Linked DNA regions of Homo sapiens: all the other regions are linked to region 1. Evidence: fine-mapped QTL for protein levels in blood plasma. A gene starts in region 1. Each other region holds a variant in brackets. All regions are shown on one strand. Distances are from middle to middle.

Region 1 (8,139 bases):
AGATTTTACTTACATTACATAAACTTGAAACAGCATTTGACTAGTCTTTTTTCCTGATAAAGTGTTCAAGTGCTTTTATTTTCTTAAGCCAATTAGAGCTCTTTTATTTATTTTCAGTAGTGAAACACTGTGCACACCACCCATAAATACATAGACATATCAGGCATGCCTATAGAAGTACATCTTACAGATTTATAAAAACCTTTTTTTTTCCTATTTTAATCTTTCAGATTCTTTTTGTTTGTTTTTGAGATGGAGTCTCGCTCTGTCACCTAGGCCGGAGTGCAGTGGTGCAATCTTGGCTCACTGCAACCTCTGCCTCCCAAATTGAAACAATTCTTCTGCTTCAGCCTCCCGAGTAGCTGGGATTACAGGTGCCTGCCACCATCCTCAGTTAATTTTTCTATTTTTAGTAGAGACGGGGTTTCACCAGGTTGGCCAGGAAGGTCTCAAACACCTGACCTCAAGAGTTATCAAATTCTTGATAACCTCTTTCACAACCCTAGGCAGTTGACAGCTAAATAGCCTTAAATTTGCATATTAAAGGAAACAGTTCAGATGAAAGTCAAACAGCAAAATTTACATTATAAGGTGCGCCAAGAAAAGTCTGGTGTTCTAGAGGGAAATTAAAACAGATTTAATTGCCAATTAAACATAAAAGTATGGAAATTATAAAGGCCTTTTAAACACACACACACACACACACACCTTGTAGCTTTTACTTCAGAACTTTTAGCCATGAAATAAATACAAATTCACCTGGCTTGCAAAAAGAACTTGTTGGATCTAAACAGTGGTTTTTCTCTTAATAGAAAAATAACAGCAGATTGCCGGGCGCGGTGGCTCACGCCTGTAATCCCAGCACTGTGGGAGGCCAAAGTGGGCGGATCACGAGGTCAGGAGTTCCAGACCAGACTGGCCAACATGGTGAAACCCCATCTCTACTAAAAATACAAAAAATTAGCTGGGTGTGGTGGCAGGCACCTATAATCCCAGCTACTCAGGAGGCTGAGGCAGGAGAATGACTTGAACCCGGGAGGCAGAAGTTGCAGTGAGATGAGATTGTGCCATTGCACTCCAGGCTGGGCAACAGAGTGAGACTCCATCGAAAGGAAGGGAGGGAGGAAGGAAGGAAGGAAGGAGGGAAGGAAGGAAGGAAGGAAGATTTAGAGCAGGCAGAAAAGAAAAATAGAGAAAAAGATGACTTAGGAATTCTATAGTTTGCAGGTCAACCTTAGGGCTCTTTTTCCTTAATGTAAATGTGCACAAAGACCACGTTATTTCCATTTTACATAAACTTTGTCAGGTAGAGGTGCCATAAAAGCTACGGAGTGCTCAAAAGGGGGTCATTTTCTTTGTTTTCTCCTCATTCTGAAACCACCTTTGCAAAATTATGACTGAGACAGTGAAAGAGATCTAACTTAAGTGACTCCATCTTGTTTCTAACCTCCAAGCTGTCCTTGTTCATTCCTAGGCGTAAGCTGAACTAACTTTGGGAGAAACTTAGTTTATAGTTTAAACAAAGACAGTAACAGCCCTTTCCCAAAGCTGACTTCATTCTTGCCTGGGGACTAGATTGCCTTTGTAGGACTAACATTAGCCACAAGATTAGAAATTATGGTTTAGGAGTCACGCAGCTGGAGGCTACAAGATCCTGATCCTCCCTAAACTACTCCTAAGATCAGTGCTTGAGATATTTTGCTGACCCTGCACTTGATGGATCAGCTGGCCCCACCCAGATCAATAAACTGGCTCATCTGATCTTGTGGCCCTCACCCAGTAATTGACTGGGTGCACGAAGACAGCTCTGAGTCCCTATGATTTCATCTCTGACCAATCATCACCCCTGGCTCACTGGCTTCCCCCCACCCACCAAGTTATCTTCAAAAACTCTGCTCCCTGCTGGGCATGGTAGCTCATGCCTGTAATCCCAGCACTTTGGGAGACTGAGGCAGGTGGATCACTTGAGGTCAGGAGTTCAAGACCAGCCTGACCAACATGGTGAAACCCCATATCTACTAAAAATACAAAATTAGCCGAGCATGGTGGCACATGCCTGTAATCCCAGCTACTCGAGAGGCCGAGGCAGGAGAATCACTTGAACCCAGGAGGCGGAGGTTGCAGTGAGCCAAGATCATGCCATTGCACTCCAACCTGGGCAACAAGAGCGAAACTCTGTCTCAACAGCAACAACAACTCTAAAACTCTAGTCTCCTGCACCTGCACAGCCGGCTCTGCATGAAATACTCTTTCTCCACTGCAATTCCCCTGTCTTGATGAATCGGCTCTATCTAGGTAGTGGGCAAGGTGAACCCCTTCAGTGGTTACATCCTGAGGGCTGTGTCACAGGCCATGGTTGCTCATATTTGGCTCAGAATAAATCTATTCAAATATTGTACAGAGTTTGACTCTTTTCATTGACAGGTACTTAATTTTTGCTTTCCTTTTAGAAGCACATACAGTGTCAAAGTTCTCTTTGCTACACTTCATTTGTAATGGAAAAAACTCCAGCCTTTTTTCTTTGCAAGCTTGGCTGAGACCAACTAGGGACAGGGCTGATGGTTTTCACAGCTCCCTTCATGGAGAGAAATCACTCCTCTGATTCCTTTGCCAGTCTCCATCTTGACTTGTGAGAAGGGAATAGTGATTCCCTTCTCTGTGGCTCACCTCACAGAGGTCCTGGGGGTGGGGAGCAGGTAGAGAAAAGAGAAGGAAGGATCAGAGTGAACTCATAGGAAAAAGTGCTTTCAAACATTGAGTTCTATAAAAGAGAGGGGGGATAGTGTTCTTTCATCAATGGTATTTCTGCATCGCTGGAACCAAATTGGTTTTTCTCATTTTGAGAGTCTCCTGGTTGTTCCTCCAGCTATTTCTCTACATTCCACACCCCAGGGATGTAAAGGTGAGAGGAAGGGGGTCATATTACATGGCTGGGCACCCACCATGTGCCAGGCACTTCCGAAGGTGTTCCACGTGCATTGTCTTAATCATGACCTCAGGAAGTAGGAGGCGTTATCCCCCTAAGATAAATAAGGAAAGTGAGGTTCAGGGAGCTTCACTTTCAATAATGTGTCTGAGGCCACGTAGCTCCAGTAAATGCTGAATTTTGAAGCCAGCTTGGTCTGGATCAAAGCTGTGCTTGAGGCTGGGCACAGTGGCTCACACCTGTAATCCCAACACTTTAGGAGGCCGAGGTGGGAAGATTGCTTGAGCCCACGAGTTTTAGACCTGGGAGGCTTAGGGGGAAGATTGCTTGATCTCAGGAGGTGGAGGCTGCAGTGAGCCAAGATGGCACAACTGCACTTCGGCCTAGGTGACAGAGTGAGACCTTGTCTCAAAAAATTAAATTAAATTAAATTAAAAGCTGTGCTTGAGGCCTGGGCCTCTCAGTGGAGCTGTCTTCTACCTCCTGGGATGGAGAGGGGAAGGGCAGGGGCCTCTGGCTGCCATGACTAGTCCTTCAGGAAAAGCTGCTCTGTTCCCATGCCTGAGCAAACTCAGGCAGCTGTGCCCTTCCCAGCTTCCTGAGGCCCCTGCTCCATCTGAGGCTCATGAGACCTCTTCATTCTCAGCCAGGACTAGCGACTGCTCACGCGCGCACGTGGCCTTGGGTAGGGGGCAGCGTGAGTGGAAACCTTAACTAAAGGGGTGAGTATCTGATGCTGGAATTGCAGATAGTAAGTGAGGTAGAAAGGAAAGGGGAGAGAGGCATTTAGGAAGGGCCTCCTAAGGGCCCTTGAGTCAGGCCTGCAGGCAGCCCCTGGTGTGAGGGCAGGGGGAGGGTGCCAAAGTGAAAGCACACACACCCTGGCCTGCTGGGGGTTGCAGAACTGTCAGCCCCAGGGATCTGGGCATGGCCTGGAATCCCCCGAGGAGACTGAAGGAAGGTTGAGGGGTGGGAGGCTAGGATCCTCGTCCCTGGAGTCTGACACTGCTAGACACCTGGGCTTGGGTGGGCCAAAGGCAAGGCCTGACTATAGTGAGGCAGAGAGGCCCCAAGTACACAGAATGTAAGCAGGCACTCACACCATAGGTGCCTCTCTTGCCTTGGATTCGTCCAGGCACTGCCCAGGAGCTCAAGACACAAGGGCAGCCACCCTTACCCACTGCTTATGTGGCATATGGGAATATACAATATAAATATATTCTTATAATTGTATATAATAATGTTTATATATATGTAACACATAAATGTGTATTAATTCAACCCTCACAACTCTTTAAATTATCCTTAGTTGACAGATAAGATGAAAGGCAGAATAGTTGGAACAGATAGTAAGTTTGCCTCACTAATAACTTGTACACAGTCCATACTCTTAACCACGATGCAACACAATTATCACCAACACACACACACACACACACACACACACACACACACACACGAAAAAGGCCACCAGGTACTCACCCAGTTTCCTTATCAGGAACCGCCCCACAGCAGATTGGCCACAGCTGTGCCTCTGCCCACGGCCAGCCCTGTGGGATGCAGGTGGATCTCGTGAGGTCAGGGCCCCTTTTATAGCCCCATCACCACAGCTGGCTCTGTCTCCCGCCACCCACACCAGCTGTCCCACTCACCATGGAGAAGATCCTGATCCTCCTGCTTGTCGCCCTCTCTGTGGCCTATGCAGCTCCTGGCCCCCGGGGGATCATTATCAACCTGGTAAGAGGGTCTTCAGGGGAGGCGCCTCCTGAGTCCCCAGATGAAGACTTCCTAAGCTTGGACCTTGACCTCTGATGTCTCCACCTGGACTGGCAGGGGCTGGGAGGAGTGGCATCTTGCATCCCTCTGTTTACTTCCATGTCCTGTCCTATGCCTCTTCCCAGAGGCCACAGGAAAGGCTGATCAGCCCCTCTCCAGCTCCAACTGGAGCATGCTCAGAGCAGCAGCTCAACCTGGCTATGAGGGACCTTTTTTTTCTTTTTTTTCTTTTTGAAACGGAGTCTTGCTCTGTCACCAGGCTGGAGTGTAGTGGCACAATCTCGGCTCACTGCAATCTCTGCTTCCCGGGTTCAAATGATTCTCCTGCCTCAGCCTCCCAAGAAGCTGGGATTACAGGTGCCTGCCATAACGCTCAGCTATTTTTTGTATTTTTAGTAGAAATAGGGTTTCACCATGTTGCCCAGGCTAGTCTCAAACTCCTGACCTCGTGATCCGCCCACCTCGGCCTCCCAAAGTGCTGGGATTACAGGCATGAGCCACCTCACCTGGCCCTACGAGGGAGCTTTGTAAAAATCCAGAGCCCTGGGCTTCCATCCTGAGAAAATGCTTTGCGCCAATCATTCCAGCTTCTGACTTATGGAGATGCCTCGGAGATGTTTACTCATTCTGTTCTCATAATAACCACTGAGGGAGGTGTTTTCAGAGTCAGCCCTGTCTTCAGACAGAGAGAGGGTGAGCAACCTGCCTGAGGTCACATAGCTGGAAAGTGGTTCAGCTGGGGCCCCACCACTGCCCCACACCACCTCTCCACCATGGGTCTTGGCTGGGAAAGCCCTTCCAGAACGTCCATGCGGTTGAAAGGTTCTGAACTCTCTTAACTTGGGGCCATGGCTGGACTTGGAGGTCCAGGACCCTTGGAGATTATAGATCAGATCTGTTGGGGGAGGAAGGAGTCTTGCAGGGAGATGCAATCTTCACCGCCTCCTTAAAGAGGTGTGGGACCCAGAGTGGTTTGGAGAACTTGTCTAGGGGCCTTGTGTGCACATTCCAAATGGGAACACTGAGGCTTGGGAGGCAGTGACTTGCCCAGAGTCACACAGGAGGTTGGTAGCACAGCCGGTACTAGAACCCAGGGGTCCTGACCCTCTGTGCAAGTCTGCTTCTCTGTCACCGCATGCCCACTTCTCACGTGGGTGGGGGGCACAGAGGCCACCAGACCCAGGGGATGGACTCCTTCACACACATCCCTACCAGGGGAGACACTGTTAGTGGTAGTGTGTGGTGGGTACAGGTCTGAATGGAGAAGGGACCTGAGGGAGTGGGGCCTGGGCTGACTGGCTGCTCCTGGCAGGAGAACGGTGAGCTCTGCATGAATAGTGCCCAGTGTAAGAGCAATTGCTGCCAGCATTCAAGTGCGCTGGGCCTGGCCCGCTGCACATCCATGGCCAGCGAGAACAGCGAGTGCTCTGTCAAGGTGGGTGCCTGAGGACTTGGCGTGGGTGGGGGAGAATGGGGAGTAGGGCCCTGAACACTTGTGAGTGGGATCAGGGAGGGGGGTCAGCCTGGACACTGAATGTTGAGGAGACGAGAGGGAGGTCGACAGGTGTCAAAGCACTTTCCCATCCCATCATCTCTCTTGACCCTCCCGAGTGACCAGTGAGATGGGTGGGGGTGGGGATTTGTTATCCCCATTTCATGGCTGGGTAAATAGAGGCTCCCCAGAGAGATCAAGCTAGTAAGAGCAAATGAGCCAGAGCAGAGGTCAGAGCTGGGGTCTCCAGGGCCCACGGCACCCCTGGGGAGGCAGGTGGGAGAGGCACTCCCCGAAAACACAGGCTGGCCTACTGGTTCTCTAGGTCAGGCAGGGGACAAGTGATGTCCAAAGTATCTCCCCATAGCCTTGACTCCATTGGCTGTGTCTCTGCAGACGCTCTATGGGATTTACTACAAGTGTCCCTGTGAGCGTGGCCTGACCTGTGAGGGAGACAAGACCATCGTGGGCTCCATCACCAACACCAACTTTGGCATCTGCCATGACGCTGGACGCTCCAAGCAGTGAGACTGCCCACCCACTCCCACACCTAGCCCAGAATGCTGTAGGCCACTAGGCGCAGGGGCATCTCTCCCCTGCTCCAGCGCATCTCCCGGGCTGGCCACCTCCTTGACCAGCATATCTGTTTTCTGATTGCGCTCTTCACAATTAAAGGCCTCCTGCAAACCTTTCCCAGTCTCCTGCATATTCTTTCTGACTCAGCATCTTCTCTGAAGTTGCATCAGGCCTTTGGTCCACCAGGGCAGGCTTCAGGCAGGTCAGAAGAACAAGGGATGGGTCTGGGGCTGAAGAAGTTGTGGCCAAACAGATTGGAGACTGAAGACAAAGCTGTGAAGGAGACCCAGCCAGCCTAGGAAACCCTCCATTTCTGGGGAGAAGTCACACCTACCTGGGATGCCCTCCTTGTCCCTCCGGTTCTCAAAGAGACAAGCGGGCACATGTGCATGCGCGCGCACATACACACACACACACACACACACACACACACACACTTGTGGGTAAGGAGTTTTAATGGCCCATGTTCGTCACCCTGCATCAGAGGCATCAGAATCCTGGGCTCTCACCTCTTTTCTGGACACAATTCTCAAATATGACAGCTAGCTGACACAACTCATGTGTTAAGGGGTCAGACCACTCTCAATTGCTATGAGCTTACTCTCTGCCAGCAAATGCTCACAAGGATCCCAGGAGGGAGAATTTCTCATCTCCACTTTATAGATAGAGACCAAGTTTCAGAGAGGAGCTTGCCCAATGTCACATAATCAGAAAATGTTGGCACTCTACCATCTAACTCCACTGCCCTGCTTCTATGATTCCTTTTTTTTTTTTTTTCTGAAACAGAGTCTCTCTCTGTTGCCCAGACTGGAGTGCAGCGGAGTGATCTCTTGGCTCACTGCAACCTCCACCTCCCAGGTTCAAGCGATTCTCCTGCCCCAGCCTCCCCTAGTAGCTGGGATTACAGGCGCCTACCACCACGCCCGGCTAATTTTTGTGTTTTTAGTAGAGACGGGGTTTCATCGTGTTGGCCAGGCTGGTCTCAAACTCCTGACCCCAGGTGATCCACCACCTCAGCCTCCCAAAGTGCTGGGATTACAGGTATGAGCCACCGTGCCCGGCCTTATGATTCCTTTTTCTTTCCCAATTATTCGCATTAAGAAAAATGGGTGGAAACTGCAAGGAATTTAATTTTGCCTTAATATAAAAATTGTATATCCCCTGGAGCCATCAAACATGAGTTACCTTAGGCAGTACTGAGGTGCCCATCATCCAGGTACGCAGGTGGAAGCTCACTGACCCCTCGGTGGAGATGCTAGAGAGGAGATTCCCACAGAGAGTGAGGGACAGTGAACTGAATGAAACTTCGATGTCGTCCCAGCCCCAGGATCTTGCAGTTCTGTGATCAATGAATCCTCCTGTAACCACA
Region 2 (8,000 bases), 13 kb before region 1:
AGGTCGCACTCCCTCCCCAGCAACTCATCTGCTGTTGTTCCCCATCTCCACCAACAAACTTCCAGGAATATTACTTCGAGACCCCGCCTCAGTGCCTCCTTCTAGGGGAGACCACACTTAGCCCCCAAGGCTGGATTGCAGCTCTCTCCCCTATAGCCTCTGAGAGTGTAGAGGGGTGAGGGGGACATTCCTTTATCACAGATCGCCTTATCACCTGCTAGCTTGCAACCCTCCACTGGCCTTTGATTTCAGGGAGGACAAGGGGTGTGTCTGATTAGTCTTGGTGTCCCCATCCCTTGGCCAGGGACCAAGCCTTAGAGGACTGGCTAAGATGAACCCCCACCCACATCCCAGGGTCTCCAGGCAGGGGACACCATTGTGGAGTTGGGTGATTACCGGTTCCATCTGCCTTGTAGTCGTCAGGGAGGAGCTTGTCCTGCCGGTAGCCCAACACGAAGGCCAGGAAGGAGAGGATGAGGGCGTCGCCAATGCTGAGGATGGCCAGCATGAAGGCCCAGCGGATGGTGCAGTGGCCCAGCGTGTACTTGCCCGTCTGCTCCCCACACATGCGCCGCACCTCACTTGAGTCCCAACCATCAGGGTAGACCAGGCAGCCAATCATTAGGCCTGTGGCTGAGGGGGAAGGAGGGGTGCACATGGCATCAGGCCGAGTGTGCCTAGCCCGCTACCTCCCACACCTTGCACTGCTGTTATGTTGTCACCTCCCTTCTCCTTCTGTTAACAGCCTCAGGAGGCATGAGAGGCAGCCTCTACCATCCTTCTTGCAGAACACAGGTGAGAAAACTGAGGCTCTGAGAGTTAAAGCAACTGGCCCCCGAGACCCAGTAGTTGGGGCGGAGGCAGAGCTGAGCTCCTAAGCCCAGGCCGGCTCTGCCACCACACCAGGTGGTCCTCCCAGGCCTTCAGCCATTCTCCTCACCTTGGACTCAACCAGGCACCACCTACCCTGGCTTCAAAGCCCTCCGGTATCTAGTCCCAGCCCAAAGAACTCATCACTGCTGAGATGTACATTTCTTCGTACTTACAACATCTGTGAAATAAGCTCAATAAGAAAGTGTCTAGCCTGGGGGTGGTGGCTCACACCTGTAATCCCAGCACTTTGGGAGGTCGAGGCGGGCAGATCACCTGAGGTTGGGAGTTTGAGACCAGCCTGACCAACATGGAGAAACCCTGTTCTCTACTAAAAATACAAAATTAGCAGGGAGTGGTGGTACATGCCTGTGATCCCAGCTACTGGGGAGGCTGAGGCAGGAGAGTAGCTTGAACCCTGCAGGCAGAGGTTGCGGTGAGCTGAGATCACACCATTGCACTCCAGCCTGAGCAACAAGAGCGAAACTCCGTCTCAAAAAAAAAAAAAAAAAAAAAGGAAAAGGAAAAAGAAAGTGTCAGGCCATGGCCAGATTATCAGTATATTTTGTTTTTATGGTACATAGAATAACAGTGTGTCCTACAACTCAGGTATCTTAGATTTAATGTATACAGGAAGGCTTTCCAGACTGTCCCTGGCTGCTTCCTTCAAAAGCCTTCCATTCAAGCAAACAGGTTTCCTCCTCACTCTTACCCAGTACAGCATAGTCCAGTTGCTACACGTCCCTAAATTTAAGAATCCCCTGGAGGCCGGGTGCGGTGGCTCACGCCTGTAATCCCAGGACTTTGGGAGGTCGAGGTGGACGGATTACAAAGTCAGGAGATCGAGACCATCCTGGCTAACACGGTGAAACCCCGTCTCTCCTAAAAATACAAAAATTAGCCGGGCATGATGGTGGGCGCCTGTAGTCCCAGCTACTCGGGAGGCTGAGGCAGGAGAATGGTGTGAACCTGGGAGGCGGAGCTACAGTGAGCCGAGATGGCGCCCCTGCACTCCAGCCTGGGCAACAGACCAAGACTCCATCTCAAAAAAAAAAAAAAAAAAAAAAAATGCTAGTTCCTAGGTCATGGTTGGGTTCAATAATCCCTGTTTTCAAAAGCACTCTTCCAGGTGATTTTCTCAGTAGGAAAAGCTGGGAAACACTAGACTAGGCTGCCTGGATTTCAAACCCAGTTCTCTGCTACCTAGCTATGTGACTCAGAGCAAGCAACTTAAGCTTTCTTTTCTTTTTTTTTGAGACAGAGTCTTGCTCTGTCGCCCAGGCTGGAGTGCAGTGGCACGATCTCGGCTCACTGCAACACCCGCCTCCCGGATTCAAGTGATTCTCCTGCCTCACCCTCCTGAGTAGCTGGGATTACAGGCATGTACCACCATGCCCGGCTAATTTTTGTATTTTTCATAGAGACGGGGTTTTGCCACGTTGGCCAGGTTGGTCTTGAACTCCTGGGTTCAAGTGATCCGCCGGCCTTGGCCTCCCAAAGTGCTGGGATTACAGGCGTGAGCCACCGTGCCCAGCCATACTTAAGCTTTGTTTGCCTCAGTTTCCTCATCTACAAAATGGACATAATAATAACCCTAACCTTCCTGTTGTGGTTACAGCAAGGTTCAAATGAGTTAATACTGGAAAAGAGTGTAGAACAGTGCCTGGCACAGACTTGGCACTCCATAAGAGTTGACTGTGAGAGTTATTATCACACCCTGTGCCTTACTTGACTTATTATTTACAGCTAAAAATTCTGTTGCCCCCACTTTCCCCCCACTTCTTCCATCCCTTTCCATCAAACCATCCCCTCACCTTAGCTTTGCTGGGGTGAAGCAGAGACAGGTGACATAATCCAGGATGCAACTGGGGCAGCCAGCCCCAGGCACAGCTGCCCCACGGGCAGGGGGTGCTCCCCTTATCTGTGCCACTTTCCCACAGGTCTGGAGGCTCTCTAGTCCCAAGGTTGTACCCTACTCAGGAGACCCTCAGAAAAGCACCTCTTCAGGCCTAAAGTTACCTTCCCTGCTTCCAGCTTGTTCTACAAAGAAGGTCAGGAGGTCAAACAAATGCACAGTAAATGGAAAAATCAGGGTCCCACCTCCCCACCTAAATGTATCACGCTTCCTTTGATCTTTTTTAGGAGAAGCTTATTTAGATAGTTCTTTATAGATCACAAAATACTTCATGTACCATCTTGACTGTGATCACCTTTCTGTGAAGTGGGCTGGCTATTAATATCCTCATTTTACAGATTAGAAAACTGAGGGCTCAAAGAAACCAAGTGACTTACCAGCCATCCAGTCATCCAGCTATGACAGGGCCAAGGCCTGAGTTCTCCATTCCTGACTTTCCTGACTTCAAAGTTTATTCCCTCCACCCCCAGAACATGACATCTCTCCCAGGGGCTGAATGTAATTAGCGGTGACATTTCAGACTTCCTACGTGTTCAGTGAAAACTAAGTGTTCAGGAAGATACCCACGGTGGAGGAGAGGGAGCCATCCACAGCTCCGTGGTGAAACCTACGTAGCCAGCCCTTCCCCGACTTGATGTGAGTCCAGCCCTCCAGTGCCTGGCAGGGCCCCTGGCTTCATGGGCAGAGGTGAAGGTGGGAAGGAGCTGCCCTTCCAGGCTTTGCATTCTCTCCATCACTTCCTCCCGTGGCCCCTCCCCTCCTGCACCATCTTCCTGTGGGGGCTCCGGAAAAAAGCCCAGGGCCTCTGACCTGGAAACAGGGTGTTGGTGCCACAGTCCCCTGCGAGCACTCTACCCATCCACCCACGGTTCTGGGGACAGTGGGTGTCAGCCCCAGTTGTGGCATCTCAAGGCTCTAAGCAGAAGCCAGCACAGTGTTCTCAGGCCAGGTTACTTACCCTCTCTGACTTCCGTCCTGTTGTCTGTAAAGTATCTGACTCATAGCAGCACT[G/A]TGAGGATTAAGTGTGATCATTTACAGAAAACGCTTACTATGATGTCTTGTACATGGAAAGTGGCCAATTAATGTTAGTCACTGCTATTATTATTGACATTGGAGTCAGACAGAAGCCACCTCAGTGACATGGATGCCATTAGAGCTGCTCACGAATATTCCAGGTGCAAGGCAAGGTTGTACTTCCTTGCTCCGCTCTCTTGAGGTTAAGTGAGGCCATCTGCCTTCCTCTGGCCAATGACATGTGAGCAGAGATGTGTGTATTTCCGGGCCACAGCACTTAGCTGCAGTGGGAGACCTCCCAGAGTTCCCTTCCCTCTGATGCGAGGACAGCTGATGGTGACTGATGCCACTAGCGAGGGTCCCAGGAGACAACAGTGAGAGCGGAGCCCCCACCGATCCCCGGTTGGCACGGACCATAAGCAAGAAATACATAAACCGTTGTTCTAAGCCACCAAGATTTGGGAGTGGTTTGTTACTACGGCATCACTTCTCATGCTCACTGATATAGTTGTTTCTTGTGTTTTTCTTTTCTTTCTTTTTTTTTTTTTTTTTTGAGACGGAGTCTCACTCTGTCGCCCAGGCTGGAGTGCAGTGGCGCGATCTTGGCTCACTGCAAGCTCTGCCTCCTGGGTTCACGCCATTCTCCTGCCTCAGCCTCCCAAGTAGCTGGGACTACAGGCGCCCGCCACCAAGCCCAGCTAATTTTTTATTTTTGTATTTTTTTGTATTTTTTGGGGGGATTATCCCCTGCCCACAGGGCAGCTGTGCCTGGGACTTTCCCAGTTGCATCCTGGATTATGTCACCTGTCTAATTTTTTTGTATTTTTTTGTAACACGGGGTGTCACTGTGTTAGCCAGGATGGTCTCGATCTCCTGACATCATGATCCACCCACCTCGGCCTCCCAAAATGCTGGGATTACAGGCTTGAGCCACCATGCCCAGCCTGTTTTTTGTGTTTTTCACAGGTACTGAGCACTTACCATGTGCAAGGTGTTTTACATGCATTCTATTATCCCATCTTCACAGAACCCCCCTGAAGTGGGTACTGCTGCTATGTTCTACAGATGGGGTACAGTGGAATGTTTGTTCCTCCCAGATTTCCTGTGTTGAAATCCTAACCTCCAGTGTGATGGTGTTAGGAGGTGGGGCCTTTGGGAGGTGATTAGGTCATGAGGGTAGGGCCCTCCACGAATGGGATTGGAACCCTTATAAAAGGGACCCCAGAGGGGAGCGGGGGCAGCTAAAGGTTGGTTAATGGATACAAAAGTATAGCTAGACAGGAGGAGTAAGCTCTAGTGTTCTTTAGCACTGTAGAGTGAGTATAACCAACAGCAATCTATCGTATATTTTCAAATAGCTGGAACAGCAAATTTGAAATCGTCCCAACTCAAAGAAATGTTTTAAGTGTTTGAGGTGATGGATATGCTAATTACCTTCATTTTCTCAGTAGGAAAAGCTAGGAAACATTAGATCAGGCTGCCTGGATTTCAAGCCCAGCTTGTATACATGTATCGAAATATCACACTGTAGCCCATAAATATGTACAATTATTATGTCAATTAAAAACAATAATAAGGCCGGGTGCGGTGGCTCACGCCTGTAATCCCAGCACTTTGGGAGGCTGAGGCAGGCAGATCGCCTGAGCTCAGGAGTTCCAGACCAGCCTGAGCAACATGGTGAAACCCCATCTCTACAAAAAATACAAAAATTGGCTGGGTGTGCTGGCATGCACCTGTAGTCCCAGCTACTCGGGAGGCTGAGGAGGGAGGATCACTTGAGCCTGGGAGGTCAAGGCTGCAATGAGGTGTGTTCATGCCATTGTACTCCAGCCTGGGTAAAAATAATCATTTTTGAGACCTTGACTCAATAATAATAATCATCAATGCAAATAAATACATAAAAGGGACCTCAGAGAGCCCTGTCATCCTCTTTTCACCATGTGAGGACATCAAGAAGTCAGCAGTCTAGAGCCTAGAAGAGGCCTTCATCAGAGATCTCGTGCTAATGCCATGCCGGCACCCAGATCTCAGACCTCCAGGCTCCAGAACTGTGAGAAATGAATTTCTGTTGTTTTAAGCCCCCTAATCTATGGTAATTTGTTATGGCAGCCCTGACTAAATAGAACTAAGTAAAACTGACTAAGACATGAGGTTACCAAGACTCAGAGAAGACAAGCAGTTTGGTCTACCTGTGTTTCTAGGAGCTGGGACAACTCCCAGCCTACACCTGGCACCCAGAAGCCCAATTAATCTTGTTAAGCTGCAGCCCCACATCGCCCAAGCATCAGTCCTCCTTGCCCCTGCCCCCTCCCTGTTCCCAGGCTTCTTGGCAAGGGTACTAATGAATAGATGTATCTCCCAGCTGCTGGATATGGGACCCGCCCACTCTGCATCTCTCCCTTCGGCTCATTTCCCCTTCCGCAGCACAGCAGAATGGAACATGACACCAGTCTTGCCTTCCCTAACATAAATGTTGCATGAGATGGCACCTGGCCACCTCTGCTATCAGTGTCTCCAGCTTTTCTACCCAGATAGTGTCTGACTCAGATGGCCTGTCAACCCCTCCCCCTCCTGGCACTGCCTGCTCACACATGGCACCTGTTGGGGGATGTTTCAGGGAAGGGGGGTTTGCAGACAGCCCTGAGAATGAGAGAGATGGTTGTGTCTCCAGCATCCCATAACCCTGATAGGGAAGAAGAGCTGGCAAGCATATTAGGGTCTATTTCACTCCTCTTTGGCATAAAACTACTAAATCTTCATTTTCCCTTTGTTCATATATATATATATATATATATATATATATATATATATATATGTATAAAATGAATATATAGTAAAGAATATATATATATATACTCAATATTTTTATTAACCCAGCTAATTTTTGTATTTTTTGTAGAGACACAGTTTCGCCATGTTGCTCAGGCTGGTCTCGAACTCCTGAGCTCAAGCAATCTGCCCACCTCGCCCTCCCAAAGTGCTGGGATTACAGGCCTGAGCCACTGCAGCTGGCCTTATTATTATTTTTATTTATATATATTATTTATTATGATTATTTTTAATTTATATATATATATATATAAAATAGAGATAGGGTCTCACTATGTTGTCCAGGCTGGTCTTGAAGTCTTGAACTTCTGGCCTCAAGCAATCCCCTCTCCTTGGCCTCCCAAAGTGCTAGGACTACAGGCATGAGCCGCTGTGCCTGCCCCCACCATCATTCTTGACATGGCCACCACCTACCTTGCTCCCCACTGCCCACCCCTGCCCCGGCCTCTCTCTTATCATACAGAGAGACTACAGAGAACAGGGAGGTGGCAAGGGGATTTGCTGGGAACTCTGAAGCCATGTGAGTAGCCTGGGTGCAAGATTTGGAATCAAAGGTGCATGCCTTCCTACTTGTATGCTCAAAGACAAGTTACCCACTAGGGGCCTTCTTTGTAAAATAGATAAATACCCACCTCAATGGGTTGTGCTGGGGCTCCTCCAGATATTATATGTAAAGATATTTCATAGATCATTATACTTATGTAAATATGTGGCTCAGTAAAAACATCTTAGGAATACATCTAGTTCCTTGGTCCTCAGTTGCCCGCTTAATTCTTCCTGGTCCTCAGGTGCCTGCTGATCTGCTACAGCCTTGGCCAAGTCTGGTCCTTTCTCTCAGCAGCAGATTCCTCATCTATAGTTGGGGGGTGGATATAGCTCTCTGGGGTCCCCTCCAACTCTGCAGTCTTGAATCTGCATGTTTGGTGGTCTGGGATTCAGATGCCTGTTTCAGTCTCCCTCTTAAAGATGACAGCACTTCTCATTCTGACCAATGAGATGGTTTCACTCTAGTTTCCAGTCCCCGGCACTACTCCTGGACATCTCACCGACATGGACAGTTTGTGGCCCCTGAGGTGTGCAGGGACCAAGGTACCAGAGGCTGCAGCACAAGGTCTTAACCCTCTTCCTGGGCTACAGAGAAGAGCAAGACCACTTGGCACAAGGACCAAGAAGCCTTCCTGAGCTAGAAGCAGGAAAAAGGACCAGGGAGGTTTTGCCTCAAGGCACAAGTAGCTGCCTACCCCACAGTTTTATTTGTTTTATTTTATTTATTATTATTATTATTATTTTTAGAGACAGGGTCTTTCCATCTTGCCCAGTCTAGTCTCAAACTCCTGAGCTCAAGTGATGCTCTCTCCCAAAGTGCTGGGAT
Region 3 (8,139 bases), 13 kb after region 1:
TTCTTGGTGCCCTTGTTGAAACTTAATTGGCTGTACAGGCTTGGGTTTATTTCTGGGCTCTGTATTCTCCCCTTCCCCTTCTAACTTCTTGACATTGGGTATCCTTGGGAACTTCTTAGACATTGGGTATCATTGGGTTTCCAGCCTGCCACCTCTCCTTCCACGGTCATTTCATAGGTTTTCTCTGAATGGGGAGAGCTCACATAACACAATGGAAGTCTGGTTATCTGTCTGATACATTTAGTACAGGACAGCATATTCTACCAAGGTATGGTTCACATCGTTTTGCTATGACTTACAAGGGGGCGTTCTAAGTACAACCATAGTTTACCTCCAAACTCCCCAGCCCTTGCATCCTAAGCCCAACATCCTGGAGGGCATGTTTGGCTCAGTTCTGGTGGCTGAATGTGGAAATTTAGGTCCAAAATCTGAAATAATTAACTCCAAAATGTAACCTGAATATAACAGGCACTACTCACAGACAAGCGAGCTAGCATCTAACTCCAAAAGCCTCACCACACACTGAGACTTCCTAAAACTCCACTTGACTCATTCTCTCTCCAACCCCACACCACAGTCGCTGCTCCAGTCTTTCTTTCTCACTCTTTCCTAGGCTCTCCTTCCTTCCTTCCTTCCTTCTTTTCTTGTCCCTCTTTTCTCTTGCCTCCCAGAAGATTCAGATTCAGCACTTTCCAACTGTGTGACCTTGAACAAGTTGCTCAACCCGTTTCCCTACCTGTAAAACAGAGGTGATAACAGGAGAGACCCCACAGGTTTGTTGCAGGATTAAATGAGATCATGTGCATAAGGCAGCTAGAGCGGCCCCTAACATCTAGTAAGTGCTCAATAAACATCCTCAATTCTTTATACACATGGATATTTTGTGTACCTTCTTTCACATTTCTGAAATTTAAGGTCGTGGAACTGGAATATCAGGTGTAAACTGGGCTTCCGGGGGGTAGATTACAGAGTGGGCTGAAGGCAGAAAGGGGTTGGGGTGGGAAGGGAGCTTTGGTCTCTTCTGGGGGACTTTCATTCATGCCCCAACTGGGGAAAGACCCCAAGTCCAACAGTGTCCCTTCCTGCTTCCTCCCTCATATCACCTCCCCACCCCCCAGAAACCTGTACCATGCCCACCCCAGCCCAGCCCACCCAGGCCCCAACTCTGTGGGCAGCAAACATTGAAAAAGCTCTTTATTTCAATCACTCCCCACTTCCCTCCACTCATGGTGGAGGCTCTGGGGAACAGGGTGAACACAGAGCTCTGGGTAGGGAGGAGAGCAGGTGGAGGAGGAGGAGGCAGCAAGAAGGAGGGAGCACTAGAAGAACATTTTCTTAGCCAACTTCTGCCTTCCAATTTTCTGACAACGGCCATAGGCGATGCTAAGCCATTTCTCATTCTTTGAATATATACAAGTCAGGTTCCGCAGGCAGGGACACGCTCTATATTGGCCAAAGAACACCTGGGAAAGACAGGACTTTGACCTCGACCTTGGCGGCAGCTCTTCCCTGAGCCCCTAAGCCCAGCCCAGCCCAGCTCCAGGGCCCATGTGCTTGCCCACAGCCAGGATCCAGGGATAAATGATAGCTTGCCAGCTGCTCAGAGTGGCACCTCTGGCTGCCTTCTCCAGGCTGGCTCCTGGATTGTTCAGTGTCCTCCCAGCTCCAGACCTTGTAACCCTGCCTGTCACTGACCCATCTGCCTGTCCTAAGTCCATGGACACACCATCGCAGGACCTCTATGTCTTGTCTTTAAATCCTTCCATGGGCAAATCAACTCCCTCCCCTACACACCCAGCTCAGAGGCTGCCTCTGCCCATCCTCCACCAGGAACACCCGGGGCCACAGCAGAACTCCTGAGCTGGATGAAGACGGGGCTCTGGGGCAGAGGCTGGACCTAGCTGTGCCCATTTACTGTACTACTTTCGGAATTTGCTGAGAAGACTCCTGGAGAATGTGAACCCACATTAGAAAGTGAAACATCGCCTTCCCGCCCCAATCCAGGATTCCAAAACCCTAGGGTGGGCTACCATATTGGTTCCGTCCACAGGCTCCCCCAGAAGGCTTGGAGGTGCAGTCCCACGGGGGAATTCCAGGCTCCAGGGCATTTCCGCCCACCTACCCTTCTTTCCTCCCCAGGAATCTGGGCCCGCCCTGGCTCCCACTTCCCCTGGATCCCCTCTGGCTCCCCCCGGGCGGCGATACCCACCTGCGTTTGACACAGACTGCCCTCGGACCCCTTCTCCGCGCAGTGCGACTCGCAATTGTCTGGAGCACGTTGGCAGCAGCCAGTCTCGCAGTCCTGGTTCCGGATGCAAGACTCCTTGAGCTCCTGCAGGGAGGGACACGGCACCGCCAGGCTCCACCGCCCGCCTTCCGCCCTCGCCGCCCCGCCTGGGGCTTTCTCCCTACGGGGCTCCTCCCCAGACTCTGCTCCCACCATCACCTCTGGCTCCTGCCAGGCAGGGTGGTCTCTACGTGGGGGCCGGGGTAAGTCTGTGCAGACGGTGGATGCCTGGAGGGGACTGAACAGTTTTTAAAAGGTTTACTCTTGGTGTCCTCAACATAGGCTGCTTCTCATACACACCAGAGTGGTCTAGACTTTCCTGTCTCTCTCTTGCACTTCATTCTGCTGCAGAGCCTTCTCGCCCCAAAACTCATACTCACCCTTTCACCTGTGCCTGATGGTCACCTACATGCATTCCCACCGCCCCTCCCCCTACACACATCAATGACCTCCACCCAGCACTGGGGCTTAGGACAGTAATTAACATTATTGATCACAGCCACCCATCATCTCTGACAATTTCAATAGTCATTCAACAGGCAAATACTGAGCACCTACTGTGTGCCAGGCACTGTTCCAGGCACTGGGAATACAGCTGGGAACAACAAAAACAGAAATCCCTGTCCACCTGCAGCTGACATTCCAGAGCAGCACTGTCCAACAGAGCTTCTGCAGTGACGAAAATGTGCTTTTTCTGCCCAGTCCAATAGCCACTAGCCACTACTGAGCACTTGAAATGTGGTAGTGCAACTGAGGAGCTGAATTTAAATTTTCTTTTCTTCTTTTTTTTGAGATGGAGTCTTGCTTCCATCGCGCAGGCTGGTATGCAGTGGCGTGATTTCGGCTCACTGCAACATCCACCTCCTGGGTTCAAGCAATTCTCCCGAGTAGCTGCGATTACAGCCGTGCGCCACCATGCCTGGCTAATTTTTGTATTTTTAGTAGAGACGGGGTTTCGCCATGCTGGCCAGGCTGGTCTCGAACTTCTGACCTCAGGTGATCCACCCGCCTCGGCCTCCCAAAGTGCTAGGATTACAGGCATGAGCCACCGCGCCCAACCCTCTTTCTTTCCTTTCCTTTTTTTTTTTTTTTTTTTGACAAAGTCTCACTCTGTCACCCAGGCTGGAGTGCAGTGGTGCAATTATAGCTCACTGTAGCCTCAACCTCTAGGTTCAAGCAATCCTCCTGGCTCAGCCTCCCGTGTAGCTGGGACCACAGGCACACACCACCATGCCCAGCTAATTTTTTTATTTTTTGTAGAGATGTTACAGGTAGTTAGACAGGCATGAGTGGGGTAGGAGAGGGCTCTCCCCCACCCACCAGGAATGTCAGGTGATGGTTCAACAGTTATCACATTGCCTCTCTAAAAATGATAATTTGGCAGTTAGGCTCCAGGGAGAGACAGGCTTCTAATGGTCCACAGCTGTTAACATTAAAGTGTCCATTGAAAGCAGGGGCCAGAGAGAAGCAAAAAGGGCTTCCAATAAAATCTCAGGTGTTGGGTGAGTGAGCCCGGGGAATGCACATTAAGAGAAAAAATGGAGGAGTATGAATTTCCGGGGACAGGGCCAGGCATGGTGGCTCACGCCTGT[A/G]ATCCCAGCACTTTGGGAGGCCGAGGCGGGCAGATCACGAGGTCAGGAGATCGAGACCATCCTGGCTAACACGGTGAAACCCCGTCTCTACTAAAAATACAAAAAATTAGCTGGGCGTGGTGGCGGGTGCCTGTAGTCCCAGCTACTTGGGAGGCTGAGGCAGGAGAATGGCGTGAACCCGGGAGGTGGAGCTTGCAGTTAGCTGAGATTGCACCACTGCACTCCAGCCTGGGTGACAAAGCGAGACTCTGTCTCAAAAAAAAAAAAAAAAAAAAATTTCCAGGGGCACACTCCACAGGAAAAGGGAACAAAGCCTCAGATGGGCATGCGTACAACTTCCTAAACACCCTGCATGTGCTCACTTCCCAAGGGTAAGGAGGACACTGCGCATGTGGTCAGCTCACCCTAAGGGAAGAATCAGGGGAGAGAGGCACACGACACTGGAGGTAGGCAAGACTGTTAAGGGGTAGGACCAAGGTTAAACACTGCACTTGCCCTTCAAGTTGCCCACTTGGGACTCTTCCAAGTGTACTTTCCATTCTTTCCTGCTCTAAAGCTTTTTAATAAACTTCCACTCCTGCTCTGAAACCTGCCTCAGTCTCTTTTTCTGCTTTATGCCCCTCAGTTGAATTCTTTCTTCTGAGGAGGCAAGAATTGAGGTTGCTGTAAATGCATACAGATTCATTGCCAATAACTCAGATACCTTCCACCAGTAAGAGACAGGAGTCTTGCTTTGTTGCCCAGGTTGGTCTCGAACCTCTGGGCTCAGACAATCCTCCCACCTTGGCCTCCCAAAATGTTGGGATTACAGCCATGAACCACCACACCTGGCTTGAATTTTAAATTTTGTTGAATTTTAATCAATGTAAATCTAAGTAACTATATGTGGCTAGTGTAAACCAAAAATAAAATTTGAAGCCTCCCACCACCACCAATCCACAGCCATCTCAGTCGACTCCTTCCTTGGCCAGGGCACTCTAAAATTTAACCTGAAAGACTGGTTCAGGCCATGACGGGAAGTGGGGGTTGGACATGCCTCATTAATACCCCTCCAGCATTAACATTAACAAAGACCTTAAGTCTGATCAGAAACATGTACAATCTATTTTCTATGAAGCCTATTACTGGAGGCTTCATCTGCATGATAAAACCTTGCTCTCCTCAACCCCTTATCTTAACCCAGACATTCCCTTCTGCTGATAATAGCTGTTCAACCAACTGCCAATCAGAATTTGTTTAAATCTACCTATGACCTGGAATGGAAGTCATGCCCCCCACTTCAAGTTGTCCCACCCTTCCAGATCAAACGAATGTAAATCTTACAGGTACTGACTGACATATTATGTCTCCCCAATGTGTATAAAAGCAAGCTATACCCCAAAAAACAAAAAACAAAAAAAAAGCAAGGTGCACCCCAGCCACCTGAGGCTGTATCACAGGTGTGTCCCTAACCTTGGCAAAATAAACTTTCTAAATTGACTGAGACCTGTCTCAGATATTTTGGGTTCACACTAGTAACTGCACTATTGGACACACACAGCTCTAGAGAGGGAAGACAGGGAAGAGATACATAAGTGAAATGATACGGTATCACAGAAAAAACGTTGAGCAAAATAAGTCAGATTTTTTTTTTTTTTTTTTTTTGGAGATAGAGTCTCGCCGTCGCCCAGGCTGGAATGCAGTGGTGCGATCTCGGCTCACTGCAAGCTGTGCCTCCCAGGTTCACGCCATTCTCCTGCCTCAGCCTCCTGAGTAGCTGGGATTACAGGCACCCGCCACCACGCACAGCTAATTTTTTTTGTATTTTTAGTAGAGACAGGGTTTCACTGTGTTAGCCAGGATGGTCTTGATCTCCTGACCTCGTGATCTGCCTGCCTCGGCCTCCCAAAATGCTGGGATTACAGGCATGAGCCACCGCGCCCAGCCCCCCTTTTTTTTTTTGAGACAAAGTCTCACTCTACTGCCCAGGCTGGAGTGCAATGGCACTTTCTTGGCTTAGTTCAACCTCTGCCTCCCGGGTTCAAGCAATTCTCCTGCCTCAGCCTCCCAAGTAGCTGGGATTATAGGCATGTGCCACCACACCCAGCTAATTTTGTATTTTTAGTAGAGATGGGCTTTCACCATGTTGGTCAGGCTGTTCTCGAACTCTTGACGTCAGGTGATCCACTTGCCTCGGCCTTCCAAAGTGTTAGGATTACAGGCGTGAGCCACTGCGCCTGGCCCAAATTTTTTTTTAAAAGTACATACTGTGTGATTTCATCATACAAAGTTCAAAACTAATCTATAATAATGGAAGTCAGGAGACAGTTGCCTTTGGTGCTATTGACTAGGAGAGTAAGAGTGAGGCTTTTGGGGTAATGAAAATGTCCTATATCTTGTTCTGACGGTAGTGATGAGGGGGTCTGCATAGGTTCGAATCCATTGATTTCCATGTAAACTCAAGATCTGAGCACCTAGTAAGGTGTGATTTTTACCACATATGTTATATACATAACAATAAGTAATATTTATATTATATATGTATAATCCTATTATGTACGATTATGTGCTATAAAGAAAATAAGGCAGGAAAGGAGGATTGGCTATAGCCGCCTCCCGGCCTCCCTGCTTCCATCCTTGCCAGTGACCTCCCCCAGGTACCCCCTCACCATCCCCACTCTCACTTCCACCTCCCCAACCTCCTCAAGTCAGTTCTTCCCAGAATAGCTAGAGGAGTCTTTTTTAAAAGATAATTCCCACAATGCCATTCTCTGGATTCAAAGCCATCACTGGGGCTCTGAATCCACACCTGGCCTGGCCCCAGGGCATTTGCGCTTGCTGGCCCTCTGCCCAGAGCACCCTGTCCTGCACTCTTTGCCCGGCTGCCTCCCCCTCCTGCCTCAGGCTGAAGACTTCCTGGACACCAGCAGAGCAGTCCCCATCACCTGGTTGTACTTTGTTCACAACACTTATGACTCTCTGAAATCATCTTATTTATATGTTTAAAAATAATTTATTTCCCCCGCTAGCAACCTCAGCTCTGGGACATGGATCTTCTGCTCTCACGTTCACTGCTATATTTCTTAGCCCCCTTGGACTAAAGTCCTTACACATTGCAGGTGCTGAATGCATAACTGTTGAATAAATGAGAATATTGTAACTGTGTTCCATTTATCTCTCTGAGCTCATCTCCCATGATTTCCACTCTCTCTTACTCCTCTTTGCTATTCCTTGAATATGCCAGCACATTTCCGCCCCCAGACCTTTGCCCTGGCTGTTCCCTCCACCTTGAATGCTCTTCTCCCAGAGACCCCCCTGCTTTGCCGGTTAGGAAGGACTTCCCTCCCTTTAGGTCTTTGCTAAAATTTCACATTCTTAGTAAACTCTTCCCTGAGCACCCCATTTAAAACTGCAAACCCTGGCCAGGTGCGGTGGCTTACGCCTGTAATCCTAGCACTTTGGGAGGCCAAGGCGGGTGGATTGCTTGAGGTCAGGAGTTCAAGACCAGCCTGACCAATACGGTGAAACCCTGTCTCTACTAAAAATACAGAAAAAAAAATTAGCTGGGCGTGGCAGTGGGTGCCTGTAATCTCAGCTACTCGGGAGGCTGAGGCAGGGGAATCGCTTGAACTCAGGAGGCTAAGTTTGCAGTGAGCCGAGATTGCCCCACTGCACTCCAGCCTGGGTGACAAAGCAAGACTCTGTCCCAAAAAAAAGAAAAAGAAAAAGAAAAAAAAAAAAAACACCTGCAAACCCTTCTCACACCACCACTCCCACAGCTCGATTCTTATTTTCCCTTTCCTTGCTTATCACCTGAGATAGATGCTATTATTAATAGCATCTATTGTAATGTTTTACTTCTTTGCCTCACACACTAGAGTGACAGCTCTACAAGGGCAAGGATTTTTATCTTTCTTGCTCACAGCCCTATCACTAAATGTAGAAAAATAATTTACATATAGTAGGTGCTCAATAAAAATGTGTTGCATGAGTGAATATCTGTCTCCCTTACCACATGTGCGCATGGGCAGGGGGGCTCTCTCACATTCACCTCTGTGGCAGCAGCACCTGGCACTGCCCTGGCACAGCTTCCAGGACCAGGTTGTTCTCTCTTTCCTCCGAGACATCTTCCACCCAACACTCCCTGCTGCCCCCACTTCTGGCCTTCTCCCACACTAGCCCCCATGCCCGCTCACCTCCCCAAATAGTACAGGCCTTAGGACAGTGGAGGGGGAGGTGACTGCACTCTCCAGCTTTCTTACCAAAAGGTTGTATTTTGTT
Region 4 (8,139 bases), 51 kb after region 1:
CTGGCTAGTTTTGTATTTTTAGTAGAGACGGGGTTTCTCCGTGTTGGTCAGGCTGGTCTCGAACTCCCGACCTCGGGTGATCCTCCCGCCTCAGCCTCCCAAAGTGCTGGGATTACAGGCGTGAGCCACTCTGCCCGGCTTTCTCAGTGATGATTTCATAGCTCCTCAGAGCCCATCTTTGAGGAATGCATGCAGAACACTGTGGCTTACGTTCGTTAACTCATATAATCCCCCTTTCATTTTCCCAACAGCGTCATGAAATCAGTACTATTATTATATGCATTTTATAGATGAGGGGCCTGAAGCTCAAATAGGGTTAACTGCTCCCCTGAGGTCACACAGTAAGTGACAGAGCTGGGACTGGAAGCGAGCACTCTGATTCCAGAGCTCCCTTTCTGACCCAGTATGCCTGCAGATCTCTGTCATTCATGCTGTCACCAAGGATCAACAGTTCTTCCTTGGACACGTGGAAAGAATGATCTTCCTCATCCCCTTTGGCTAATGAGATGTGAGCAGAAGTGATGACATTTATCACTACCACATTCCCTGTCCTTCTGTAATAGTTGTAGAAACACAATGAGGAAGCCTCCCTCAACCTGGGTCTCTGTGTGAGGATGTTGTGGAGTAGAGGCCTGCCCTTCCACCCCCACCGCTGATCTGCAATGGGCATGCAGTGTAAACAAGAATTAACATTTGCCATGTTTTTTTTTTCTTGAGACGGAGTCTCGCTTTGTCGCCCAGGCTGGAGTGCAGTGGCGCAATCTCGGTTCACTGCAAGCTCCGCCTCCTGGGTTCACGCCATTCTCCTGCCTCAGCCTCCTGAGTAGCTGGGACTACAGGCGCCTGCTACCACGCCCGGCTAATTTTTTGTATTTTTAGTAGAGACGGGATTTCACCGTTTTAGCCAGGATGGTCTCGATCTCCTGACCTCGTGATCTGCCCGCCTCGGCCTCCCAAAGTGCTAGGATTACAGGCGTGAGCCACCGCGCCTGGCCCCCTTTGCCATGTTTAAGCCACTGAGGTGTGAGTGTTGTTACTGTGGGATAGCCTGGCCCATCCTAACTAATCTAATGCTATACTGCGTCCTGTTGATTATCTTTGGCTTCAATCCCCAAGCCTGCCTTCTTCCAACCCCCTGAAAGCAATGGCTCCACATTGATTTGAAAAGCAGCAAGAGCCAGCCTGGCCAACATGCCGAACCCCACCTCTACTAAAAATACAAAAATTAGCTGGGCGTGGTGGCGGGCGCCTGTAGTCCCAGCTACTCGGGAGGCTGAGGCAAGAGAATGGCGTGAACCAGGGAGGCGCAGGTTGCAGTGAGCCAAGATTGTGCCATTGCACTCCAGCCTAGGCAACAGAGCAAGACTCCATCTCAAAAAAAAAAAAAGAAAGAAAAGCAGCAAGAGAAGAGGGGAGCTAGTCCCCCAAACATAGAAGTGGGGATGTGTTTTGAGAGATAAGCCCATGCTGTACCACACTCTGGAGCAGAGGTTATGCTGAATGAAATCTCCACCCAGCCCTGGAAGGCCACCAACAGACATTCGAGCTTCAAGAAACTTCAAGTTTCTCTCCTATACTCATTTATTGGCTCTCCTTAATTTTATTCCGTGTTTTTAAAGTAGGAACGACTGGGCTGGCAGGAGGAGGGCCGGGCTCTCAAGTCCTGGGGATACTGCAGGCTGACAATGACCTTGCAGGCCTGGATCTGAACATCTTCCTCAGGGTGGATGACCAGGGCAAGTAGTCGGTCTGCCAGTCGGGACTCTTCCCCAAAGAGGGATTCATGCAGGGACTGTTCGTTGTAATGCCATTTCACCACGTGGTAGTGGGGTGCGTTCCGGCCCTCACTCAGCCGCTCAGCAAACACCAGTACCTCATACAGGAGACTCCCTGACTGTGTGGGCTGGAACAGGTTTAGGAAGTTGGAGTGAACCTGTGATGGGAATAGAGAAAGAATGGGAATAAACTCCTAGGCAAGTTACAAAATTCTTGTTCTTGTATATTCCTATTGCCTAAACTCCCAAATATACCTAAATTTCAGACTCGAGTATATAGTAATTTTTTAGTTTTTCTTTTATTATTATCCTCTAATTTAATTGCCTTGTGATCATAAAACATGAGTGATATGATAATATTCATTCTGGAAATTTTGTTGAGACAAATTTTAAGGCTTAGTGTGTGACTAATTTTCTTAAGTATTGTGTGTGTGCTTGAGAGGACTGTGCATTTAATCCTTGTAGACTGTTCTGAGTATGTCTAATGGCTCAAGCTTATTTGTGTTATTCACTAAGAGTATATCCTCACTAATTTTGGCTTTTTAATCTATCAGTTGCTGCAAGAATGGTTAAAATATTCCAAATCTCCCACTGTAGTGGTATATTTGTTAATTTCTCCTTTCAATTTTTGTCGTATATATTTTGAGACTATGTTATTAGGTGCATACAAGTTTAGAGTTGCCCTACTGTTCTGGTGAACTGAACCACTGATTATCACAGAGTAACCTTTTCTATCCCTAATAATGCTCTTTGCCATAGTAATTTCCCCCCAATATTAAAATACCTACATTAACTTTTGTTTTGTCTCCTGTGTTCCTAACTCTCAGAGTTCAGGAAATGCCTCAAAGGGGGATCCCCCTCCCAATAAAATGGAGTCTCCTTCTACTGGGGGGAACAGAAGAGGCATGATTTTCAGTGCATTTAGTGCAGAGGCAGGAAGATACTAAAACAATTCATCAGGGGTAAATCTGTCTGGAGATGCCATGATTCTTCCCTCCCCCTATACCTGAGTTGGCATTCATCAGCCCCTCTTCAATTTCTTTCTCACCTGGCAGTTGAGAATGTCATAGAGAAGGTCATTCTTCTGTGCCAGGTAGCTCAGCAGTCGTACGGCTTGCACCTGAATAAAGGAAAGAGTAAAGCATGAGAAGGCAGGTGAGTCTGGGCCTCAGCAAGGAAGATATAAACCTCTGCTCCTCCCTCTAAGTACTGTGCTAGGGCTGGTCAGCAAGGCAGGGCCTTGGCCATGGTCCTCAGGCACCTGTGCCAGGATGTAGTCTGACTGCAGGATCTCCATCAAGGCAGGCATCACCCGTCGCAGCTGTGGATGCACATAGTCGGGCAGTGGAAGGTTGTTGAGGAGTCTGAGGCCCGCAATGTGCAGTTCCGTGTCCCAGATGGTGGAGATCAGTTCGAGTACTTTGATGGAGTGTTCCTGGAGTGGGGGAGAACAAAAGGGCTTACTTTTACAGGTGATCACCACTATCCCAGTATCTGACTTTACTCTTCACTGTCCCCATGGATGTCCCCTGGGCCAAACCCAATAGACAATTCTCCCTAACTCTCAACATAATTTGACCCAGTTGCCCACTCCCACTGCCTTGAAATTCTTTATTTGGCTTTTTTTTTTTTTTTTTTACAGACTTCTTTCCTAGCTATTCTGCCCAACCTCCTCTTTTCTACCTACCTCACTCCCATACCGGTATCATCCAGACTCACAGTGTTAAATACGATCCACATGCTGGTGACTCTCCCCTTTATGTCTCTAGCTCCAGCTATGTTGTCCCTCCCCTGAATCCAGACTCATATATGCAGCTACCAATTCCACTTTTCTCCCCAAATGTCTAATAGAGCTCTCAGAGTTAACACGCTCCCCCATCCCCAGACCTGCTCCTTCTATAGCTTTCCCTGTCTCAGCTATGGGTTACACTTTCCTTCCAGTGGCTCGGGCCAAAAACTGCTGGCATCAACTCCTTTCTTTCTCTCACACTCCTTTTCCAACCCTTCAGAAAATCCTGTAGGCACTACCTTCAAAAATCTATCAAAATTCAAGCCACTTCTCCTCACCCCCACTTCTTACCACCCTCTTTCAAGCCACTGGCATCTCACCGGGATTTCTGCAATAGCCTCCTGTCTCCCTGCTTCCATTCTCACCCCCTGCATCTACTTTCAGAGCAGCTGACATGTTAGACATGTCACTCCTCTGCTCAAGAGCCCCCATTTCATTCAGTGTAAAAGCTAAAGTCCTTACAGTGGCATACGGTCCAATGTGATCTGCCCCTCTCTCCCTATTATGTCTTGGACTCCATCTTCTCTTCTCTCCCTCATGACCAAGGTTCCCATCACAATGGCCTCTTACATATTCCATGAACATGCCAGGTACACACCTGTCTTAGGGTGTTTGCATAGGCTGTGCCCTCTGCTTAGCACACTCTATCCCCAGATACTCACAACTCACTCTCACACCTCCTTTAAGACTTCATTAAAATGTTACCTTCTCAGTAAGGCCTTCTCTAACCACCCCCATCCCAGCCTTCCTTACCACCCTCCACTGTTATTTTATTTTTCTCTACAGCATTGTCACGTGTAACACACATTTTCATTTCTTTAATTTTGTTTTTTAATTTAATTTTATTT[T/A]ATTTTATTTTATTGGAGACCGTCTCACTCTGTTGCCCAGGCTGGAATGCAGTGGTGAGATCTTGGGTCACTGCAACCTCTGCCTCCCAGGTACAAGCGATTCTCCTGCCTCAGCCTCCCAAGTAGCTGGGATTACAGGTGTACGCCACCGTGCTCAACTAATTTTTGTATTTTTAGTAGAGACGGGTTTTCGCCATGTTGGCCAGGCTGGTCTTGAACTCCTGACCTTAGGTAATATGCCCACTTCGGCCTCCCAAAGTGCTGGGTTTACAGGCCTGAGCCTCCGCGCCCGGCCTTTATTTTGAAATGATTATAAATTTACAGGAAGTTGCAAAAATAGTACAGCGAGGTCCCATGTGCTCTTCACCCAGTTCCCCTCAATGGTCACATCTTGCATTATAGTATAATAGCAAAACTAGGAAATTGGTGTTGGTGTAATATGTGTGCATAGTTCTATGTCATTTCAGCACATGCACATATTTGTGTAACCACAACTGCAGCCAACAGATTATCCCACCAGAACTGTCCCATTGCCACAAAGATCTATCTCAAGAGACCCCTTTAGACTCACTCCCACCTGCTCCCCCAGCCCAAAGCCCAGGCAACCACTTGTGTTTTCCATCTCTATATATGACCTTTTAAGTTTGAGGATGTTATATAAATGAAATCACACTTTATGTGATCATTTGAGATCGGCTTTTTTCACTCAGCATAACGCCCTTGAGAACCATCCAAGTTGTTGTGCATATCAATATTATATTCCTTTTTATTACTAAGTAGCATTCCATGGTAATGGCTATACCATTTTGTTTAACCATTCACCGATTGACAGACATTTTTGGTTGTTTCCAGTTTGGGGCTATTCCACATAAAACTGCTATCGACAATCGTGTACTGGTTTTTGTGCAGATATAAGTTTTCATTTCTCTAGGATAAAGGCCCAAGAGTTCAACTGCTGAATTGGTAAATGTATGTTTAGTTCTGAAAGAAATTGCCAAACTATTTTCCAGAGTGGCTGCTGTACCATTTTATATTCCCACCAGCAATATATGAAAGATCCGGTTTTTCTATATCTTTGCCAGCATTTGGTATCGTCACTAATTTTGATTTTAGATCTTCTAATAGGTGCACAGTAATATCTCAGCATGGTCTTCATTGCATTTCCCTAATGGCTGGTGATATTAAACATGGTTTCATGTGCTTATTTGCCATCCATATATCCTCTTCAGTGAAATATCTGTTCATGTATTTTGCCCATTTCCTAATTGGACTGCTTGTTTTAACATCAGGGTTGTTTTTGTTTTTAGACAGAGTCTCACTCTGTTGCCCACGCTGGAGTGCAGTGGTGCGATCTCGGCTCGCTGCAACCTCCACCTCCCAGGTTCAAGTGATTCTCCTTTCTCAGTCCCCTGAGTAGCTAGGATTACAGGTGCCCACCACCATGCCCAGCTAGTTTTTGTATTTTTAGTAGAGATGGGGTTTCACCATGCTGCCCAGGCTGGTCTCAAACCCCTGACCTCGTGATCCCCCATGCCTGGCCTAACATTCAGTTTTGAAAGCACTTGATACAATTTAGCTGAGTCCTTTATCAGATATGTGATTTTCAAATATACTCCCTCAGCCAGGCACAGTGGCTCACGCCTCTAATCCCAGCACTTTGGGAGGTCGAGGTGGGCGGATCAAGAGGTCAAGAGACCGAGACCATCCTGGCCAACATGGTGAAACCCCGTCTCTACTAAAAATACAAAAATCAGCTGGGCATGGTGGTGTACACCTGTAATCCCAGCTACTTGGGAGGGTGAGGCAGGAGAATCGCTTGAACCCGGGAGGCGGAAGTTGCAGTGAGCCGAGATTGTGCCATTGAACTCCAGCCTGGGTGACAGAGCAAGACTCCATCTCAAAACAAAAACAAAAACAAAAACAAATACACTCTCCCAGTCTGCAGCTTTTTTCATTCTCTTAACAGGATCTTTCATGGAGCAAATGTTTTTAATTTTAATAAAGTCCAATGTATTGATTTTCCTTTTATAGATCATGCTTTTGATGTCATGAACTCTTCACCAAGCCCAACATCTCAAAAGATTTTCTTTTTCTTTTTTCTTTTTTTTTTTTTGAGATGGAGTCTCACTCCCATCAAACAGGCTGGAGTGCAATGTGGTGATCTCGGTTCAATGCAACCTCCACCTCCTGGGTTCAAGTGATTCTCCTTCCTCAGCCTCCTGAGTAGCTAGGATTACAGGCCTCCTGGGTTCAAGATTTTCTTCTTGAAAACTGCATCACCCCCACCCAGACTCCTTTATCCACCCCCCGCCTTTTATTTTTCTCCATGGCACTTACCACATGAAACACACTATATATTTTACTTATTTGTGTATTGCTTGCCTTGCCCTGTTAGAATATAAATTCCACAAGCACAGGGATCTTCCCTGTTCTGTTTACTGCTTTCTCTCCTGTACTTAGAGCAGCGTGTTGGCACAAAGTGTTCAATATTACATTTATTGAGTGAATAAAGGGATCTTCGGTTCTAGGATGCAAGATGCGGGCAGGACGCAGTGGCTCACGCCTTTAATCCCAGCACTTTGGGAGGCCAAGGTGGGCAGATCACCTGAGCTTGGGAGTTCAGGATCAGCCTGACCAACATGGAGAAACCCCATCTCCACTACAAAAACAAAAAATCAGCGGAACGTGGTGGCACATGCCTGTAATCCCAGCTACTCGGGAGGCTGAGGCAGGAGAATCACTTGAACCCGGGAGGCGGAGGTTGCGGTGAGCTGAGATCGCGCCATTGCACTCCAGCCTTGGCAACAAGAGCGAAACTCCGTCTCAAAAAAAAAAAAAAAAAGTAAGATGCTTGGACCTAGAGGCATTACCAAAGACAGGTAACCTCACGAGCTGCACCTTTATGAGCCATGTAAGAAGTAAGCAAGAGTCCTGGAGTGGAAGTGAGCATTCCCATCAGTACCTGCCCTTCCCTTCCCCCACCCCTCAAAAGCCGTGGCGACCCGCAGGACAGGTTGGAGTCAGCAAGTCTGGGACAGGGTTTCAGAACGAGGGAACAGCAGCAAGGGGGCATGTGAGAGCATAAAGCATGCATTGTACGTGGCTGGGGTTAGGGCAAGGAGGTGCAGCCCATGGCCAATCACGCACTTTATGCTGAGAGCCTTGAGGCAGACCCAAAGGGCCTGATGGCCTAAGAGCCCTCTGGAGAGAGTGGGCTGATTCAGGGAATGGGGTGAGCTCCATTTTGGATATGTTGGGTTAGAGAACTTGGAGGGCATCTAAGTGGATATGCCTAGTAGCAGCTGCCCATGGGGAAGGCAGGGGAGCCCACAGGCTGCAGAGATCCAGAAGGGCACAGCTAGATGGAAATTGAGATCAAGGAGTAACTACTTTCACCTGAAAAGAGACCAGGGGTCAGGCCCTCAGCATAAAGACACTGGGGAAAAAAAGGAAGAGTGGGACTCAGGCCGCCTGCATCAGAATTTCCTGGGGGATTTGTGAAAAACAAAGTTCTCCTGTTGAACTGAACTCCCTGGGCTTTTTTTTTTTTTTTTTTTTTTTTGAGACAGAGTCTCGTTCTGTGGCCCAGGCTGGAGTGCAGTGGCGTGATCTTGGCTCACTGCAAGCCTCTGCCTCCCGGGTTCAAGTGATTCTCCTGCCTCAGCCTCCCGGATAGCTGGGATTACAGGTGCCCGCCACCACGTCCGGCTAATTTTTGTATTTTTAG

Alleles and levels. Alleles are on the strand shown, and positions count from the first base shown. The strength of an association depends on the size of the effect and on how common the allele is.
With allele G in place of A in region 2, the plasma level of the protein whose gene starts at base 4,545 in region 1 is lower (moderate association).
In carriers of allele A in region 3, the plasma level of the protein whose gene starts at base 4,545 in region 1 tends to be lower than with G alone (strong association).
With allele T in place of A in region 4, the plasma level of the protein whose gene starts at base 4,545 in region 1 is higher (moderate association).

The links. PIP is the chance, under the fine-mapping model, that this variant and not a neighbour inherited with it causes the effect. Protein levels are from antibody-based Olink assays in UK Biobank. Linkage for the fine-mapping came from a reference panel and not from the study's own genotypes, which makes the PIPs less certain.
Region 2: its variant is fine-mapped to the plasma level of the CLPS protein (UK Biobank, PIP above 0.99).
Region 3: its variant is fine-mapped to the plasma level of the CLPS protein (UK Biobank, PIP above 0.99).
Region 4: its variant is fine-mapped to the plasma level of the CLPS protein (UK Biobank, PIP above 0.99).

What each region holds. Positions count from the first base shown.
Region 1 is chr6:35,793,729-35,801,867 of GRCh38, reverse strand. CLPS (colipase) reads left to right here and starts at 4,545. Exons shown (of 3, transcript NM_001832.4): 1 at 4,545-4,663; 2 at 6,015-6,137; 3 at 6,591-6,886. The coding sequence starts at 4,580. The coding sequence ends at 6,722. It also overlaps a transcript of CLPSL1 not described here.
Region 2 is chr6:35,807,179-35,815,178 of GRCh38, reverse strand. It overlaps LHFPL5 (LHFPL tetraspan subfamily member 5), which reads right to left. Exons shown (of 4, transcript NM_182548.4): 2 at 397-633. Among named protein-coding and RNA genes, the nearest start is that of LHFPL5, 5.8 kb to the right of the region's middle. The variant G/A (reference allele first, on the strand shown) is at 3,797.
Region 3 is chr6:35,781,191-35,789,329 of GRCh38, reverse strand. It overlaps CLPSL1 (colipase like 1), which reads right to left. Exons shown (of 3, transcript NM_001010886.5): 1 at 8,121-8,139; 2 at 2,210-2,332; 3 at 1,180-1,463. The coding sequence ends at 1,320. Among named protein-coding and RNA genes, the nearest start is that of CLPSL1, 4.2 kb to the right of the region's middle. RefSeq lists an enhancer at 6,699-7,200. The variant A/G (reference allele first, on the strand shown) is at 3,880.
Region 4 is chr6:35,742,332-35,750,470 of GRCh38, reverse strand. ARMC12 (armadillo repeat containing 12) reads right to left here. Exons shown (of 6, transcript NM_001286574.2): 4 at 3,037-3,210; 5 at 2,824-2,895; 6 at 1,392-1,933. The coding sequence ends at 1,601. Among named protein-coding and RNA genes, the nearest start is that of ARMC12, 9.4 kb to the right of the region's middle. RefSeq lists a silencer at 2,799-2,998. The variant T/A (reference allele first, on the strand shown) is at 4,413.